Linked DNA regions of Homo sapiens: region 1 is linked to region 2. The links come from fine-mapping of genetic effects on gene expression. Tissue or cell type: stomach. Region 2 holds a variant in brackets; the other region holds the start of a gene. All regions are shown on one strand. Distances are between the middles of the regions.

What was found.
Region 1: it holds the start of LRATD2, and the variant in region 2 is fine-mapped to the expression of LRATD2 in stomach (GTEx, PIP 0.93).

The regions. Positions count from the first base shown.
Region 1 is chr8:126,553,517-126,562,835 of GRCh38, forward strand. It overlaps LRATD2 (LRAT domain containing 2), which reads right to left and starts at 4,962. Exons shown (of 2, transcript NM_174911.5): 1 at 4,518-4,962; 2 at 1-3,969. The coding sequence starts at 3,873. The coding sequence ends at 2,941. LOC105375751 (a long non-coding RNA gene) reads left to right here and starts at 4,360. Exons shown (of 6, transcript NR_188069.1): 1 at 4,360-4,415. RefSeq lists silencers at 2,907-3,026, 4,915-5,094 and enhancers at 3,237-3,386, 4,364-5,200.
Region 2 is chr8:126,422,299-126,431,617 of GRCh38, forward strand. No RefSeq gene overlaps it. Among named protein-coding and RNA genes, the nearest start is that of LRATD2, 130 kb to the right of the region's middle. The variant A/G (reference allele first, on the strand shown) is at 3,844.

The sequences.
Region 1 (9,319 bases), 130 kb after region 2:
AAAATTATTAAATATGTTTATTTTTTCTAAAGTGTCAAATGTAGCCACTGCCAGGGCATTAAAAACTCACTTATCCACAACACTGCCGTCTTCAGGAAAGAACCAAGAGTTGATTCATTCCCCTTTCCTGGAGCTGTTACTAGTTGGTTGTTGCTTTAAGTGTAATAACCCTAAGAAAATTCCCAATAAAAATCACTGTTCTTAAGTGTCACATATTTCACACCTCTGGTACCCTGTAGAAACGCTTGTATTACATGGGAAAGCAGCATCTGAAAAGATCTATTTCCTATTCTAGTTCATTTCCAAGCCCTGTTATTGAAAACCTCTTCTCTAGAAGAGAGAGTCACTGCTCTCTCTTAACACAGTCGCTGCTATACTTCAGCGTGACTGACCATACATCATTTTCCATTCTGGGACAGAGGAAGAAGACGGGTGGGGGAGTTGATCTGGCTAGCCCAGAGCTGGACAGTGCCATTCTATTCTTCCCTCCCACTTGTCTACACGGTGGTTATTACTACTTGCTCTGCTGCCCAGGCTGGAGTGCAGTGGTGCGATCTCGGCTCACTGCAACCTCTGCTTCCCAGCTTCAAGCAATTCTTCTGCCTCAGGCTCCCAAGTAGCAGGCATTACAGGCGCCTGCCACCACGCCCAGCTAATTTTCTGTATTTGTGGTAGAGACAGGGTTTCGCCATGTTGGCCAGGCTGGTCTCGAACTCCTAACTTCAGGTGATCTACCTGCCTCAGCCTCCCAAAGTGCTGGGATTACAGGCATGAGCCACTGTGCCCGGCCTACCTTCTATTTTCACTACTGTGTTAAGCATGAAAGAAAATCCAACTGGGTTAGATACAGCAGGTTCTCCTAAATGTCTTAACCCATGTTTATCTTGTTCTGCTATTCCATGAGCAAAGAGAATAAACACAAAGCTGTGAGAGTATTAAATATGGACACTAGATTTACATTTCCAACAAGAAATTCATCTCCCTCCAAAGTCCCAGACCAGGGCTAGAATGTGGTTCATTTTTAACAATCAAAGTGGCAAGATCTGTTTGGTGATCACTGTAAAAACAGGAAACATAGCTAATGCCCTTTCATGTTGAGGTGCTACAAAGGTCCAAGCTTTTAAAGACTATGGCCTCAACGTCCATGTGTGAAACAAGTGTATTAGAAAATTCTTTAAGTCTTGTTGCCTTAACTTAGAGATCTCCAGGCAACAGGCCTGACGATAGCCATGGCTGTACCACTTAACTATGATTCTATTCCAACTGTTCAGAATCATATCACAAAATGACTTGTACACAGTAGTTTACAACGACTCCCAAGAGAGGAAAAAAAAAAAAAGACGCCTCAAAATTCACTCAACTTTTGAGACAGCAATGGCAATAGGCAGCAGAGAAGCTATGCTGCAACTGAGGGCACATATCATTGAAGATGTCACAGGAGTTTAAGAGACAGGCTGGAAAAAATCTCATACTAAGCAAACAGTAGTATCTCATACCAAGCAAAACCAAGTAGTATCTGCTCAGCCTGCCGCTAACAGATCTCACAATCACCAACTGTGCTTTAGGACTGTCACCAAAGTCAGATTCGGTGCTAACCAGGTGGCATCTATGATCAACGTCGCCCCTCTTATTTAACAAAGGGCTCTGAAGGAGGTGTTCTCCAAGCAACAAGGAGACTGCTTCAGTACAAGACTTTGCACCTTGAATTCAATTGCATCAAGTGTGGATAGCAAAATAAGTATCTTACCATTGAAATATGTGTTCAGCCTAAGATTTTACCCACCAGCAGAACAAAAGTGAGGGTGAGAGGGATGGGCCAGTGAGGGGATGGGGGAGAAAAAAAAATCACAGGATTACCACCAAAGCCTTGTTTTAAAAGGGCTCCCTTCACTATTCAGGAAGGGAAGTGGAAGGAGAAATTAACCAATTCCTGCCACAGCAGCCCTTTTTGGCTGCTTCCACAATAGATACTTTATGGAGTGGCACAGCCAACCCTATCTGTGACCTGCCCTGCGGATAAACACAGCCAAGCAGGTTTAATTAGATCAAAGACACAAAGGGCTATTCCCTCCTTTCATAACAACGCAGCTGTAAGTGCCTACAACAGCAGGGGAGAAACAAAGGCAGCAGAACAGAACCTTAATTGAAACCTTCCCCTGGCTGGCCCTTGACAATGATTTACTTGTAACCTAGGAAGGGGCGGGTGGAGCAGGAGGTAGCAGGAGCCTCAGCTAAGAGCCAGCTCCAGAAGGCTAATTACTTGGGGGTTGTGGAGGAGGGAGGTAGCAAAGTCTTTGTTTGTAGCCCGAGTTTGCTTAACTATTTGTTACACTTAATAGGAGGCTGCTGTGGTTTTGGTCTGCTGCTCCCGGACCTTGTCATGGATTCACCAGCCCTGCGCTCCAGGAATCCCATAAAATAAATCACCCCAGCCTCCTGGATCCCATACACAGCTCAGCTCCGCCAAAGCAGACAAGCAGCTTTCGTGCTGGTCCCGCAGTGGCGACTCCACAAACCCACTCTGGCCTTTCTACCAGGATTCTTCCAAGCCCAGGATAGGAAGCAACGGCAGGAATGGGTACTCCGAACTTTCCCCCAACCCCACGTGCTTAAGAATGGCCGATTATAAACCCAGATCTACCAAGGTTTAAGTGCCAGGCAAGTCCACAGTTTGCTCCACCGCGGAGAGGAAGACAGACAGGGGGCCAGAGGGAGACGCCCCCCACCCCCAACTAAAGTGTTTCCTACCTGCTCCCTCTGTCCCCTTCCTCCTCCCCCGTCCACAGCCGGCTGCGCATTTCACCAACTCTTTTCCAAAGGGCCCAGGAATCCCAGATGGGGCCCAGACAGTGGCAAAAGAGGGAGGAAGAGAGGGAGAAAGGGAGCAGCGGCTGCTACTGCAAACAGTTCCCCTTCGCAGCTCTGCGCTCAGCTCGCCCATCAGTGTGCCACTGCCTCTCCGTCCTCCTCCTCGGAGCTGGGCGCAGGGGGGCGCCCGGGAGGCGGCGTAGTCCGCGCCACGTTGCTGTCGCCCTCCTCCGGCTCCGCCGGGTGCAGGTGCGTGGCGAGCTCCTGCAGCACGGCCGCGCGCCCGATCTGGTCGTTGCGTCGCTTCTCCATGATCAGGTCCTCTAGACTCTGGAACTCGAGCGTGTGGCTGCGCTGCGCCGACAGCTGAATCTGCAGCCGGTAGGGCTGCTTGCCGATGCGCAGCTCGCCGCCGATCTTGAACTCGCGCTTGCCGTAGCGGCACCAGGCGGCGAAACTCTCCGAGTTGCGCCAGCTCAGCTCGCGCTCCTTGGCACCCACGTGCGCCAGCGCGTTGCGCACCACGGCGCTGGAGCTTAGCGGCTTGTAGCGGTACAGATCGTTGACCACGCGGCCGCGACGGCCCTGGCTGGCGTCAGTCAGGAAGCTGTTAATCACCTCCAGCCGGTGCAGGTGCACCACCTGGAAGTTACCCACATATACGGCCCAGTGCGGGTACTGAGCCTGCGACACGAACTCCACCAGATCGCCCGGCTTGCACTTGTTGAGCAGGTTCTCGGGCGTGTAGGTACTCAGCGCCGCCGAGCCCGGCGCGAAGCTCTTCTGGTAGATGCATTCGTCCCGGTAGAACACGGAGCATTCCACCTCGTGCAGCCGCGGATCGTAGGGCTGCGGCTGGGGCGGCGGCGGCCCGTCCCCACCGTCGGGCAAGCCGCCGCCATCTGGCCCCTGAGGCGGCGGCTGCGGCTCCACGTCCTCATCGTCATTGGAGAAAATGTAGGAGACCCCAATGCGGGGCCCGTCGTCCCGGTCCACGCCAGTCGGGTCGGCCGTGGGAACTTCCTTGTAACTTAGGTGGGTCAATTTCTCCACCTGGTTGCCCATCACGCTGCGGACACACGTTCACACCGCCGCAAGGGGAGAAAGCGAAACCAACTCCAGGGTCATTTGCACAGGTCCCCGGACAGGGGCTGAGGCTACCTGTTGGGAGAGGAAGGCAAGAAAGCCATGCAGGAGCCCCTCCGTGAAAAGGGCGTTTTGTTCCGAAAAAGAATCGGTGGGGGCTCAGCACCTGGAGCCATTTTAGGGGGAAGTCTCGGGTGTAGCGAGCTTTCCCTCGTTTCTCCACCTGTAAGGTCACGGTCACAGGAGACTGGGCAACTCCTGTTCTCCCTGTCCCCAGCCCTTCGCCTGGCCCTGGCAAAAGCCCATTGCATCAGCAGCTTCTACTGCTTCCGCCTGCGCCCTACCTGCCAAGCTTGGGCAGGAAGAGGGAAGGAAAGAGAAACTTTACGCCAATCCCCCCCCTCCTCTGCTAACTTCCCCTCCCACCCTCGGGCCCTAACTAGCCCCGGGGACGCCTCCTCCCCACCAACGCATCCATCCCCAGAGGAACAAGCGAGGATCTCAGAGCGCGACCTGGACAGGTGAGTCACCCTACCTGGCTCACCTGCAGCGCTACCTCCTCCCGGCTCGCCCGCCCTTCCCCCGCGCCCGCCCTCAGGCTCGGGTTACCTGCACAAACTCACCCGCGGAGAGGTGAAGGCCGTGGGGCCTGGGGAAGGGCTCCCTGCCGCGCCCCGAGACTTCTAGGGCGAGTTTGAAGGTGTAGGCTCGGCAGTCCCTCCTCTCCCGGCGCGGGCGGCAGCGAGGCTGGGCAGAGGGCAGCGCAGCGGGCAGACTAGGGGCATGTCTTTCCCCCGCGGCTGCGTAGCGCCCCGATACTTGAAGGCGGGGGGCAATCCCTGTTCACACCGCGCTTCCTCCCGCCAGCTGGGGCTGCTGCCCCTCCTCAGCCAGCTCTCGGGGGAGGTGGGGCGCGAGGAGGAGAGGACGGCAGCCTCGCAGCCTGGCGGCAACAGCTCCCGCTTGGGCCGGGCGAGCAACAAGCACCGGAGCTGGAGGGACGGGATTGTAGATCCGGCTCCGGGCTCCCGGGCGGGAGCGCAGCCCGTGGCATTTAAAGAGACAGGCGCTCACTCCCCGAGCTCGGGTCTTTTTCACATTGCGCCGAGCGGCCGGGAGCCCCGCCCCCGCCCCGCCCACTCGGGCCTCGGGACTCCGCCCGGCCACGCCCCCGCGCCGGAGCGGGTTTAAATCCCCCTGTAAATAATCCACCCGCCGCCTGGGGCTGGTGCTGTGAGCTCTGCTTGCCTTCCGAGACAAGTTAGAAGGCAAACACAACTTGCCAGTGTGGAAATGAGAAAGGGAAGGAGAGTTTGGTGTTTGCGCCTTTTCCCTTTGACCTGTTTTTTCCCAGAGTACCTGGAGAAGGAGGAACAGTCGTTTCTTTTCTTTCCTGGAACATATTTCTTGCCCTAAAGGTCACAAGAAAGGATTCTTCACCAGGACAGCTCGAAGAGTGCGTCATCCTAGAGGTGTTTTCAGAGTTAGTAGTGGGAAACTTTGGGGTAGAAAAGAAAATCGCAGAAAAGAAACAGTATAAAACAGAACGAAGACTTATTCACTGACTGGGTCCCAAGACCACCGCTCTGTTTATTAGATACCCCTGGAAGTTAGTACAAAGTTCATAACCTCCGTTATTTCCAGAGAGGTACCAGTTCGTTGGATAGTGAGAGAAGCGTGCAGCTCTGACTGCTTTTTTTTGGGGGGGTGGGGGGTTAGGGGATGTAGGAATTGCCTAATTCCTACATCCTAATTCTAATTGTCCTTAAATTAGAAACAAATTAGCAGAGGCCCTAGTGGATATATTTCCTTCCTGTTGACTTAGGGAAGTGACAGGAGACCAGTAATGCCTACTAACCTCCACCACAAAAGGACACTTCCACCTCTCCACTGGTTTCGTTTCTTTTACCTAAATGTAGGCTACCAAAGTGTTTTTTTTGTTGTTGTTGTTGTTTATTTTTTTAAAATAATGGGTCCGGTGAGGGTGGAGGATTAACAGCTCTGTTTACAATAAACAAGTTTAGGCACTACTGCAAGCACCCAGACTTATTCGTAGGGGACTTAAGAATGCGATTCAAGACCTATATTCTGTCTTCAGTTGCTTTCTTTTGACTAATTTTTTCCAGCATGTATAACCAGCCAGTGGAAACAGGAATATACTAGCACTACTGTGATCCTTTCTAGTTTAGGAGAAAAAAATAAAAATCATTCTACTTATGTAATTTTGAGTCCAAACAATCAATATTGGCAGGGCTGTGATAGAAATTAGTCCTTCAGCAAGTCTGAAGTATAAGTTAGATCAACATGAGACTACTGTGTGCTGTGCGATTCTGTTTCAATAATTTCAGACTGGCTGGCCTCAGGCGCATGTGACTGAATGAATCCAACACACCCCAGTCCTTTTGATAGCAAATGGTGTGGGGGGCTGCTGTTACCTGAGTGATATTTGTTGCCATCATATGATCACCATATTATAGACAAGAGTTAGGCTTATAGAGATTATGGCTGGTCATCCTATGTTCATCAGATTGGGAGACCTCTGCTACTGCCTGATTTGGGAGGCCACTTTGCTCCTAGGTGCTACTGGGATGGCTGGGAATGGGAGAATTGAACTGAGAGGACACAGTTGTAGGACAATTTGCTACCAGCACTCTAGGTCAGAGATCTGGTGGGTGAGGAAGCAATGCCTAGCTGACTAGGTGTGTCTCCTTTTGTCTTGATGAGCTGTTCTCAGGTGCACAATAGTGGCTCAACAACATATCTTGAACTGACCAACTATAAAGCCTCAGAGGGAACAAGCCCTGATCCATTTTATATCTGAATGCCTGGCACTGAGTGGGTACTCAATAAATGCTTGATGGATGCCTTAGGGGAAAATTTGGCCACAGGTCAAGAATTGCTTCCTGGTTTTATGGGGCTGTGAGTGAGTGAGTGAAGAAATGTTGCCTTTTGATAGCTGGCGTCTAGTGTAGATTCTTCCATGAATGCCTGTTGAGGGTTCAACATCCGTCTTGTCACCTGGAACATTTGGTCAGAGATTACAACATGGCTCTCAGACATGCTTTGCTCATTTCAAATAGTTGTTTAATAAATTTAAGCTTGTTGTCAACAATTTGAAAACTTGGGAGATATTAAAAAATTCATATTCCCAGTTTCATTTGAAAAATCTAAAGATATGAGACTTGGCTGGGCGTGGTGGCTCATGCCTGTAATTTCAGCACTTTGGGAGGCCAAGGCAGGATCACTTGAGATCAGGAGTTCGAGACCAGCCTGGCCAACATGGTGAAACCCCATCTCTATTAAAAATACAAAATTAGTAGCCGGGAGTGGTGGGGTGCGCCTATAATTCCAGCTATTCAGGAGGCTGAAGCAGGAGAATTGCTTGAACCCGGGAGGCAGAGGTTGCAGTGAGCCGAGATCACGCCATTGCACTCCAGTCTGGGTGACAGAGTGAGACTCTGTCTGTAAATAAAATAAAGATATGAGACAATCAGACCCATATTCCAGGATGGCAACAAATTGCTGGAGAGAAGTGGTAGTTGCCTTGCGGGTGAACTATATTCTCCAGTTGGATCCAGTCCCTGTCCCCCACACCTCACGTACCTAGGTCCCTTGCCTGGTCCAGGAAGCTCTCTGTTGGCCACCTTTGCCATCCAATACCTGTACTACACATTTTATTACCTGAATATGTGTAACTCAGCACTTGATCATATACTATCTGGTATTATTCTCTAATTCATGTATTAAAGTTCATATTCTAATTAATATATTTATTCATGTCTTTTCTAAAGAGGACTTGGTTCAAAATACATTTCATGAAGACATACTGGGTGCCTGCTAGTCTTAATCACTGTGCATCCAATTCTACAATGGGCACTGTGCTAGGTTTCTTAGATGTTCGTGTCCCCAGGTAGTCACCATATTGGAGGAGACAGAGAAATAAATAGACTCTTTGGGACACTGTGACATGTCCTGTAATAAGACATAGAGGATGCTGGGGCGGTAAGGTGATGTTTCAAGGCATGGTGGATACAGAGATTAATGACCAAGTGCCTGCCAACAGGGTCTTGGGCTCATCGGGGAAACACAACTCTAAAATTAATAACTCCCATGGAGTGAGCTCTTGATTCTTTTATAAAGGAGAAGAAAGGTTAGAGAGGCCATGGCTTCTCCCAGCTGGTAGGTGGAAAGATCACACAAGCCCACTTTACTTCCAGGCCCATGCTTTTTGTTTTGTTTGTTTGTGTGTTTGTTTGAGATGGAGTCTCACTCTGTCACCCAGGCTGGAGTGCAACGGCGTGATCTTGGCTCACTGCGACCTCCACCTCCCGAGTTCAAGCGATTCTCGTGCCTCAGCCTCCCGAGTAGCTGGGACTACAGGTGCCTGCCACCACACTGGGCTAATTTTTTTATAAGTTTAGTAGAGATGGGGTTTTGCCATGTTGGCCAGGATGGTTTTGAACTCCTGACTTCAGGTGATCTGCCCACTTCAGCTTCCCAAAGTGCTGGGATTAGAGGCATGAGCCACTGTGCCCGGCCAGGCCCATGCTTTTAACTTCTTTGTTTTAAATAGAATCCAACAGATTCTACAATATTTAACAAATATTTGGGTGTCTGGGTTTACCAGACTCCAAGGATACAGTTGTGGATGTAGCAAGCAACGTCCCCGCTCTTATGGCTTTTACATGTTGATGAGAGGAGGCAAATAATAAATAAGTAAATGAATCAATGGAAATATCTGAGAGAGAGAGAGCAGGGCTATGAAGAAGGTAAAATAGGGAAATGGGATTGAATAGCTGTCAGTAAGGAGAGGGTAATGGGGGTGGCCTACTTGGGTTAAGATGGTCAGGGAAGGGCTCCTGAGGAAATAGAAATGAGCAGAGACTTGAAGGATGAGGAGCCAGCCTTGATATTACCTCCAGAGGGAAGACCAAGAGCAAAGGTTAGAGGGGGAAAAGACTGGAAGTGATTAGGAAAAAGGAAAGACTACAGTTGTGACCAGAGTACAGTGAGTGAATGTAGCTATGACAGGAGGTGCAGGTAGAGAGGTGGGCGAGCCTTTGAGTTTAAGGGCATCCAGGCAGCTGCCCTACAGGAAATGGACTGCAGGAGCAAGAAAGGAAGCAGGTCCCACAGAGGCCTGGGCTGTGGGAGGAAAGGCATCCCAGGCAGATGGAGGCTGGAGGAAAGCAAAGAGCAGGCTGGGAAAATGCCTTCCCCAAGAGCAGCAGTTCGATAAAGAAATATTAGTTGGGTTTGAATTCTCAGCCATACGGCAGCTTCATCCCCCCAACAGTGACCCGAGTGTCACATCCCACACACCTCTTCGGAGGAGGCACTCAATAAAAACAAGTTGTGTTGAATGCCAGTTAGTCACTCTCACAGTACTCCTGTCTAGACCAGTGGGGAATAATTGAGAACTGAC
Region 2 (9,319 bases):
ACTCCCATAATTCCCACGGGTTGTGGGAGGTACCTGGTGGGAGATAATTGAATCATGGGGGTGGTTTCTCCCATGTTGTTCTCATGGTAGTGAAAAAGTCTCATGAGATCTGATGGCTTTATAAAGAGAAACCCCTTTTGCCTGGCTCTATTTGCCTGCTGCCAATTGTGTAAGATGTGACTTGCTTCTCCTTGCCTTCTGCCATGATTGTGAGGCTTCCCCAGCCATGTGGAACTGTAAGTCAATTAAACCTCTTTCTTTGGTAAATTGCCCAGTCTTGGGTATGTCTTTATCAGCAGTGTGGAAACAGATGAATAAAGTATTGGTGCGTTTATTGACAAATATATATTATCAACAATGATAATAAGGAAAACAGTAGTTGTAGATTTTGCTGAGTATGTATCACTGTCCCAAACATTTTAAATGTATTTGTGGTTTAATTTCCACATAACTCTGTGAGATTGGTGATAACATTGTCTAGTTTTATTCTGAGACACAGAGAGATTAAGCAACTTTCCTGAGATCACACAGCTAGGAACTGGAGTCAAGATGTGATGCCAGGCAATCTATCCCCAGAGCTCTTGTTTTTACCATAAACTGTAGCAAATGTGGCCTCTTGCTAAACAATAAACTGTTGAAACGAATAAGACATAGGTGTCACGCATGTCCGTGTAAAGAGACCACCAAACAGGCTTTGTGTGAGCAATAAAGCTTTTTAATCACCTGGGTGCAGGCAGGCTGAGTCCGAAAAAGAGAGTCAGCTAAGGGAGATAGGGGTAGGGCTGTTTTATAGCATTTAGGTAGGCAGTGGAAAATTACAGTCAAAGGGAGTTGTTCTCTGGTGGGCAGGGGCAGGGGTCACAAGGTGCTCAGTGGGGGAGCTTCTGAGCCAGGAGAAGGAATTTCACAAGGTAATGTCAGGAACCGGCCATTTTCACTTCTTTTGTGATTCTTCAATTACTTCAGGCCATCTGGATGTATATGTGCAGGCTTGGGCTCAGAGGCCTGACAATAGATATAACCCTTATCCTTAAGGAATTCACAGGCCAGTTTGGGGAACCTGACATATAAATTAGATTATTACAATTCAAGGAGATAAAAAAGATAAGATGCACTATCAGAGCAGTGACAGCGGAGTGACAAAAGTCAATATGTTGGACCTTGGATTGAAACCCAGGCCTCCTGACTGCAGAGTCGATATTTATTTATTCTTTCCTTTATTCGATAAACATTTAGATTGAAAATTATAACTTAAAAAAAAGGCATTCTTCTTCCCCTGAAGAAGCAATCATTACAGCCCAGAGAAAATATTTCTCAAAACACGTTAAGCCCATCACAGCCTTAGTTCCAATATGAACACATCAAGGGTTCATTGATCATAAACTGAAGTGAGGGCTATTCAGTTCTCCACTGCTTTACCCATCCCCCACCCTGACCACTGCCATAAAGGGGCACCAAGAAACATTCCCTTAACCCATTTAGCAGTGGTGCCCTGATTTAATGTAACCTCAAGTTAAATTGTTTTCACTAATGCGAACTTAATGAGGGCCCCTTTAATCCCTTCAGGAATTTTCTTTTTAGAGGTTGGGTCTTGGCTCTACCATGAGAACTGTTCTCTCTGGTGGAGGGTCTCCAGCTTAAGTCTTTTGGGGAATTCCAGGAATGTAGCAATGATCAGCACATTCTTTAGATGTAACTAGGGGTTTTGAACCAATCCCCACAAAAGTATCTTTGAAAGATGTGGCTCAGATTTCCATACCTACTCTTTTTGGGGTCAGAAATATCTCAGAATACACTTTCCCCAATAAAAATATTTTGGGGATAGAGCAGATTAGCTTTTACTTTAAAAAGGCAAAAAATGAAGCTTTACTCCTAAAATAACTCTAAAATTTCAGCTATAAATTTCACTCTCAAGCTCAGAGTATGTGAGGTGAAATTATAAAATATGCCTGCTGCAGTGTGGCTTCCAAATATGGCTATAGCTCTGTCATTTTTTCAAATCATCACAGGAATATCCACCTAGCCTATTAACAGAAAGACACAGACTTGAGACCTTTTCCAGCAATGGCTATATAAGTATATCAGGGGAGTGGGGCTATCCATTTAAGGGGAGTGGGGCCAGGGCTGTTGTTCTGATTCTTTGCAGCAAGAAGAGAAAAAGCTGAGGTTTGATCTGTCAGCTATAATTTCTTCTCACTGCCACACTGTGACACTATGAAACTGATCCTGCCTAACTTGATATTTGATGCACCTCTACTGCTACTGAGATGACCTTGTTGATCTAAGTCATTGATCAGAACACAGAGAATCCTTGTAGTGGATGACAAACTTAGCCACTTGGCTCCAAAGCTTAACCAGTGTTCCTGGGTACAGCTTCAGCCACTACTTTGCCAAAGCCAGCTCTCCTCTTCCCCTTCCACTTAGAGCCTGGGCCACCTACCTAAGCTAGTGTTTGGGGGGGGTCTTTCTGATCTTGTCTGTCACTAGGCTTCAGCTGGATCACCCTTCTCCATCCTGGCCCATCTTCCTAGCTTCTTTTTGTCATTGGGCTTTTAATTCAAACTGTTTTTTTCTTTTCCTCTTCAGAGATCAGCTTTGCAAGCCAGGCATCTCAGTGAATGACACCATGACCAAAGTTCTGCCCTTCTCAATCACCACTTTCCTGATGGATGCCTGTTCATTCTAAATCTATGCTACTGAAGGAGTCGTTCAGTGACTCACCTGAACAAACATCTCTTTCAGGACTTCTCTCCCCACCTCTAGTTCCAGAAGAGGCTGGAATTATTTTTCAGGAGCAGCGATACGATCCTGATAGCAACAATATGTATTCAAAAAGCAACAACTATTGAAGGGTGTGAATGAGATGGGAGCCTTTTCCTTTGAATCATAACACAACATCATGTTTTGTCCTCAGAGTAACTAGAGTGACATGGAATTGACATTGGATGCACTGGTCAGGGCAGAGGGAGAAAGCAGCCGGGGTGGTAGATGGCTTTGTCTATCTTCTTCTCTTTTGGCCTGGAAGCTAAGCAGTTAGGAGCAAGTCTACCTGTCCTTATTAGCTGACCAACTGAGGGTGACCCTGGGGAACAGATGAAGAAGAACAGAAAGAAGATTCCAGGACTGGATTTCTACCCCAGCATAACTCTTGAATGGATTAAGCCAGCACCCCTTGAATGTGAACTCTTGAGACTACGGAGCGACTGTGATTGCTGCAGTGCAGAGTACAAATTCGTTCAAGAAAACTGCCCTGGCCAGGTGTGGTGGCTCAAGCCTGTAATCCCAGCACTTCAGGAGGCTGAGGTGGGTGTATCACCTGAGGTCAGGAGTTCGAGACCAGCCTGCCCAACATGGTGAAACTTCGTCTCTACAAAAAGACAAAAATTACCCAGGCACGATGGTAGGTGCCTGTAATCCCAGCTACTTTGGAGGCTGAGGCGGGAGAGTCGCTTGAACCGGGGAGGCAGAGGTTGCAGTGAGCAGAGATTGCACCACTGCACTCCAGCCTGGGTGACAGAGCCAGGCTCCGTCTCAAAACAAAAACAAAACCAAAAACAAACAAACAAAAAAAAAACTGCCTTGTTTTTCTGAAAGCCTTGGGCCCTCACCTGTGTTTGTTCTGGAGCCCCAGGCAGCTGCCCTTACCTGCTCTCTTTTTCCAGGGACCTCTGGTCAAACAAATCAATTTAAAACATCAAGTGCTGGAGGAACACAAACACAGGCAGCAGGAGAGGCCTCAAGGTGCCAGGCTCTGCTTTCAGCGGCTCTGGGTTTCCAAGCACGTTCCAAAAATATAACCCCCACTGCCATGGCAAACCTGCCTTTGATAAAACACAATGTACA[A/G]TCTCTAATGTTGACACAGAACAGATGGGACTTTGATTTTTTAAAAATCTGTTCTTGATAGAAGTGAAATAGGCATAATGGATTTTTCCCTTTTTTTTTTGGATTTGGACTTCTATTTTTTTCTTATCACATGCATACCGAACACAGAATCTTTCCATTCTCTCTCTTTGTTTCTGTCATAGGTTATTTCTGTAAGTAAGAGTCTCTGGTTGACCAAGTCTTGCTTTTCTCATTAACCAAACAGGATGCAGATTACTAGCCCCATGTCCCTTTTATCTGGGGAAAAAAAAAAATCAGTCATGGGAGCCACACACCAAGGGTGTCCTCAGACTTAGAGGCAACAAGACAATGGCTTATCAACAACGATGTACTGAGTGACTGCTGAGCAGGGGGTACAGTAAGGGGAGGGGGAAGTTATCCCTCACCTACCCCACATGCAATCGTAATCTAAATGCAGAATGGACCTGCCATGCCAACTCAGCCTGAATACAAGCCCCAACAGATTGCAGCCCGTAAACCCCTCCTAAACACGCCTTTAGAGCTGCCCCCGGTCACAAAACAAGCCCTTTCCAAGCCCTCCATAACTCCTCAGAGCATCGTCTGTGCACAGGGTGTTCTTGCAGGGAGGGAGTCACCCCTCACATGATTCCATTCCCATAACAACAGTTGTTACAGGGGCAGAATGCAACAGACACTGACAGACGGATTTAGGCCCTCTACGTTAACCCTAAATTGTCTGACTAGATGATGATAGGCGTGCCTGACAGTCAGTGGCTCAAGCCACATTACACCTTACTCTTATACTTTATTTCCTTCTATCCTACAAGACTCCTGGGCAGGAGGTGAAATTTAAAGAGAGGGAAAGAGAAACGCAGCAAAGAATCATGGCTCAGGGTAGTGGGATGTTCTGCTCTATGTCGAGAGTGGCTTAGCTTTTGTTTTCAATCCGGCAGGCTTCTTCTAGGGCAGTTGGATTGATTCAAAGGGATGAAAGGCAGAGTTGTGTGGAAGAGGGAGCACAAGTTTCAATGGCCCTCCCAAGTCCGGTTCACAGTCCCACCACTCTATAGGGATTGGTGTGGTGGGAAGAGGGCTGAGGGAGATTTACTAGGTTATGAGACTGGTAAAGAATACACACTGGGAATCTTACCTCATATTCTCCTAGATTCCAATCTCTCCAACACAAATTAAATTGCCCTAACCATTTTTCTAGAATGATCTGGAAATATGAACTATTCATATTTCTTTCCCAACTATTTCACAGAAAAAATGTTTATACAGAATTTTTAAAAAAGTTACAGAGACAAAAAAGATTGATGCATTATTTCATTTTGTGAGCTAGCTACAAAAAAGAAGTCTATTTATATTTTTTATCTATTCCACATGCATTAGCAGAGCATCCTCTTGGTGGATTTCCAAAACCCGATGTTGTGGCATGCAACAAAGAGGACACTTGTCATTCTATTTGCCCTGTTAATGGTAAGTTTCATGGTACATCATAGGTGTTCAATACATGTTTTGACTTTTTAAAAAGTTTGCTTTCACTGTCATGATTTAGTTCATGAGCATTTAGTAAACAAGCAGGAGGAGAAGGATCCCCTCAACACTGATGACAACGATGATGATGATGTTAGTAATGAAGAGGAAACAAGATAGAAAAAGAACCTGTATGTAGGGTAACCTGTCAATTTTCTAATGAGCATGCCTAGGTCAAATGAGAGTGCCGGGGTCTTAATTCAAATCCCTCTTCTACCACTTAGCAGGAAGCATCAACAAGGCACAGTATGACCCATTCTCACTTTCTTTGTCTTTAACTAGAAATAAAGATTCCTCACAAGCTGTGAAAATCAAATAAGAAAATTGTATGCAAAAGTACTTTGTAAATGGGGTCATACAAATATAAGAAGGTAATTTCATTATCAATTGCTAAGAACCACATAGGCCTCTCAGGATCCATTTAAGTTTTAAGATATCTTAACTACAAACTATCTATAAAAATGCAGAATAACCAAGGATAAGCTATTCATTTTTTCATTGCTGCATAACACATGACCAAAAAATTTAGCAGCTTAAAACAACTCCCATTTATAATCTCACAGTCTGAAGGCTGGAAATCCAGGCAGACTCAACTGGGTTCTTTACTTAGGGATTCATAAGGCTGACATCAAAGTGTCATTGGTGCTGGGTTCTTCTCTAGTGACTCTGGGGAAGAATTTGCTTCAAAGCTCCTTTGACCAGAATTTACTGGCAGAATTTAACTCCTTGGACTGTAGGCCTGAGGTCCTTGTCTTCTCCCTGGCTGACAGCTGTATACCACTCTCAGCACACAGGGGCTGCCCTGTGGTGCTTGTCCCATGATCCTCCCCATCTCAGCAATGAAAAACCCCACTTACATCAAAGCCTCCCCCTCTGACTTCTTCTTCTGCTCCCATATGGAGAAACTCTCAGCTTTGTCTTTTTTTTTTAATCATTATTTTTTATTATTTTTCTCACTGCCTCTTTAGTCACTGATCTCTACTTTGAAAGTGATTAGACTTAGGTCCACCAGAATAATTGCTCTTTTAACTCAAAGACCACTGATTGATAACCTTTACTACAGCTGCAAAATCCCTTTTGCCATGAAATGCAACATAATTTTGAGTGTGATATCACATCTCATTCACAGGCCTGAGGGTTAAGGCTGGATATCTTAGGGAGGGGGAAATAGGTGACCTCATAAGAAGATGGCCCTAAATATGTACACTGTGTCTATTTTATGATAAATCTCCCCCCTCATTAAGAGTTGGGGATAGAAAGGAGGGAGGAGAAAAATATATTTAAAAAAAGATTTGGGGATAACCTCCATATACTCCCCATGTCTAACACAACTTCTAGCAAAATGTGGGTTCACACTGAATAGGGATACAAGGCTTCCTTTGGGACATCTGCTTTTCAATCTCAGGTTCCATAAAGAAAATAATATTGAAAGTATCTTTGTCTTAGTTAATTGTATACTTTCCCTGCACCCCGCTGTCTAGCAAGATACCTAGCACATAGAGGGGCAAAATAAATAAGGTTGAGTGAATACGTTAATGAATGAATGAATGAATGAATGGAGGAATTTTTCACTTAGGCTTAACTAAGGGTCTCCGCTGATATCTGCATACCTAGCTTAGTTGTTGTTGGGTTTGTTTGTTTGTTTGTTTTGAAAAAAAAATGTTGAAGAAAGCTCAGTGTTAAGATTTTGGTTTTGGTTTTGCCTTTTAGGCACTTGTTTTTTTTCTTTTTTTAAGCTTTCCTTCAGGGATTTGTTCCATATGATCAACTCACACGGATTAATGCTATTCTCACCCATCATAGCGGGGCCAGGCCCTCCCAGTCTAGAGGGAGATTTGCGTAGATAGAAGGGGAGTTCTGCCCGAGGCAACAGTGGGCACCTGAGGGAGGGCCAATTTCAAGAGCCTTCTTTTTGAAAGAATTTAAGAGCCTCATCAGTCTGCCAAGGAATTTGAGTGCACAGTGCATAACAGGCTAGATTCTAGCTCAGCAAAAAGTAAAAGACTCCTACCAAATAAAGCACAGAAAAATCTTCCAGCAACCATCCACAAAAATGACAAAGCCTTTTCACTGTTTCTTGTTTGTTTATTTTTATTTATTTATTTATTTGAGACGGGGTTTCACTCTCGTTGCTCAGGCTGGAGGGCAATAGCGTGATCTCAGCTCACCTCCACCTCCCGGGTTCAAATGATTCTCCTGCCTCAGCCTCCCGAGTAGCCAGGATTACAGACGCCTGCCACCATGCCCAGCAAATTTTTGTAGTTTTAGTAGAGATGGGGTTTCACCATGTTGGCCAGGCTGGATTTAAACTCCTGACCTCAAGTGATCCACCTGCCTTGGACTCCCAAAGTGCTGGGATTACAGACTCAGCCACCGTGTCTGGCCTATTTTTATTTTTATTTTTGAGATGGAGTCTCATTCTGTCGCCCAGGCTGGAGTGCAGTGGTGCAATCTTGGCTCACTGCAACCTCCACCTCCCGCATTCAAGCGATTCTCCTGCCTTAGCCTCCAGAATAGCCGGGATTACAGGCGCCCACTACCACACCCTGCTAATTTTTTGTATGTTTAGTAGAGATGGGATTTCACCACGTCGGCCAGGCTGGTCTTGAAATCCTGACTTCGAGTGATCCTCCCAACCTCGGCTTCCCAAAGTGCCGGAATTACAGGTGTAAGCCACTGCGCCCAGCCCTCCTCACTGTTTGAAAGCTTCCTCCTTGAAAACTGGATTGACAGATACTGGATTGAAGTGAGGCAGCTTAATGCTGAAGAGGACAGCTGGCAATGTAGCAGGGAAACAGAGCCTACCTTGCTGCAGATAAATCAATATTCTGCTCCAGGCCATTAGTGGCTGGTTATTATTTAAAAACAAAAACCTGCAAATGTATTGGTTATCCCTTGATCAGACTGTGTCTCCAAAGGATTCTTTTATGATTCTTCCATTTTCCAAGTTGCACAAAACAATTTCCCATTAACCATATCCTCGCATATTCTGCTTACTAAACCAAAGCCATTTACATAATGGGTAATTTCACACACACATTAGCTAAATATAGGTGTAAACAAATACGTTGCTAAAGTTTGGACACATTTGGAGAATGCAAAACATCTAGACTATGGGAGAGGTGGAGGATTGGAGCCAGGTACATACACGTTCCAAATTAAGGAAAACCAAAAATATATATACATATATATATTATAAATATTAGATACATATTACAAATATTACATATATGTAATACATATGTAATATACATATATATAATATTTGTAATAGCACTTGCTACACTCTTCTAAGCACTGCTCTTGTATTAATTCATTTAATCCTCCCAGATACTGTATGGTGTAATTGTACTGTTATTTTCATCTCCCACTGACAGATGGGGAATGATGATATAGAGAGGGTCAGTACTTTGCCCAAAAGCAGAACTGGGCACTGAAGCCAGGAAGACTGGCTCCAGAGTCCATGTGCATAACTATTAGACTACTGAAGTCATCCTCAGAGGACTGACAAGAATTCTCGACAGAAATATAGTTATAATTAAGCATTTATCAGGCTGTGCTTGGACCCATTTTCTGGTAACCAAAAGTCATGTAGCACTGGATACTGACCATTTGCATTCCCATTGTTCCTATAGACAAGATTTCTAATGTGAGAATTGTAAGACTTTCACTTAAGAATTGCCTAAGATGTTTTTCAGATCCTGAATTCCAGAAAAACAGCTGATGTCAACTAATGTGAAGACCCGCACAGAGGCACGGCATCGACCTGAGAGTACAGTTTCTTCATCTCCCTGTCTATGATTTTACCCCGCACTTTTTGACCAATCAACAATCTTCACACTTTGGCCCATTTCAATACTCTTAAAAACCCTAGCCCCAAATTCTTTGGGGAGATGGATTTGAGGTTTCCTAGCATCTCCTCATTCAGCGGCCCTACAGT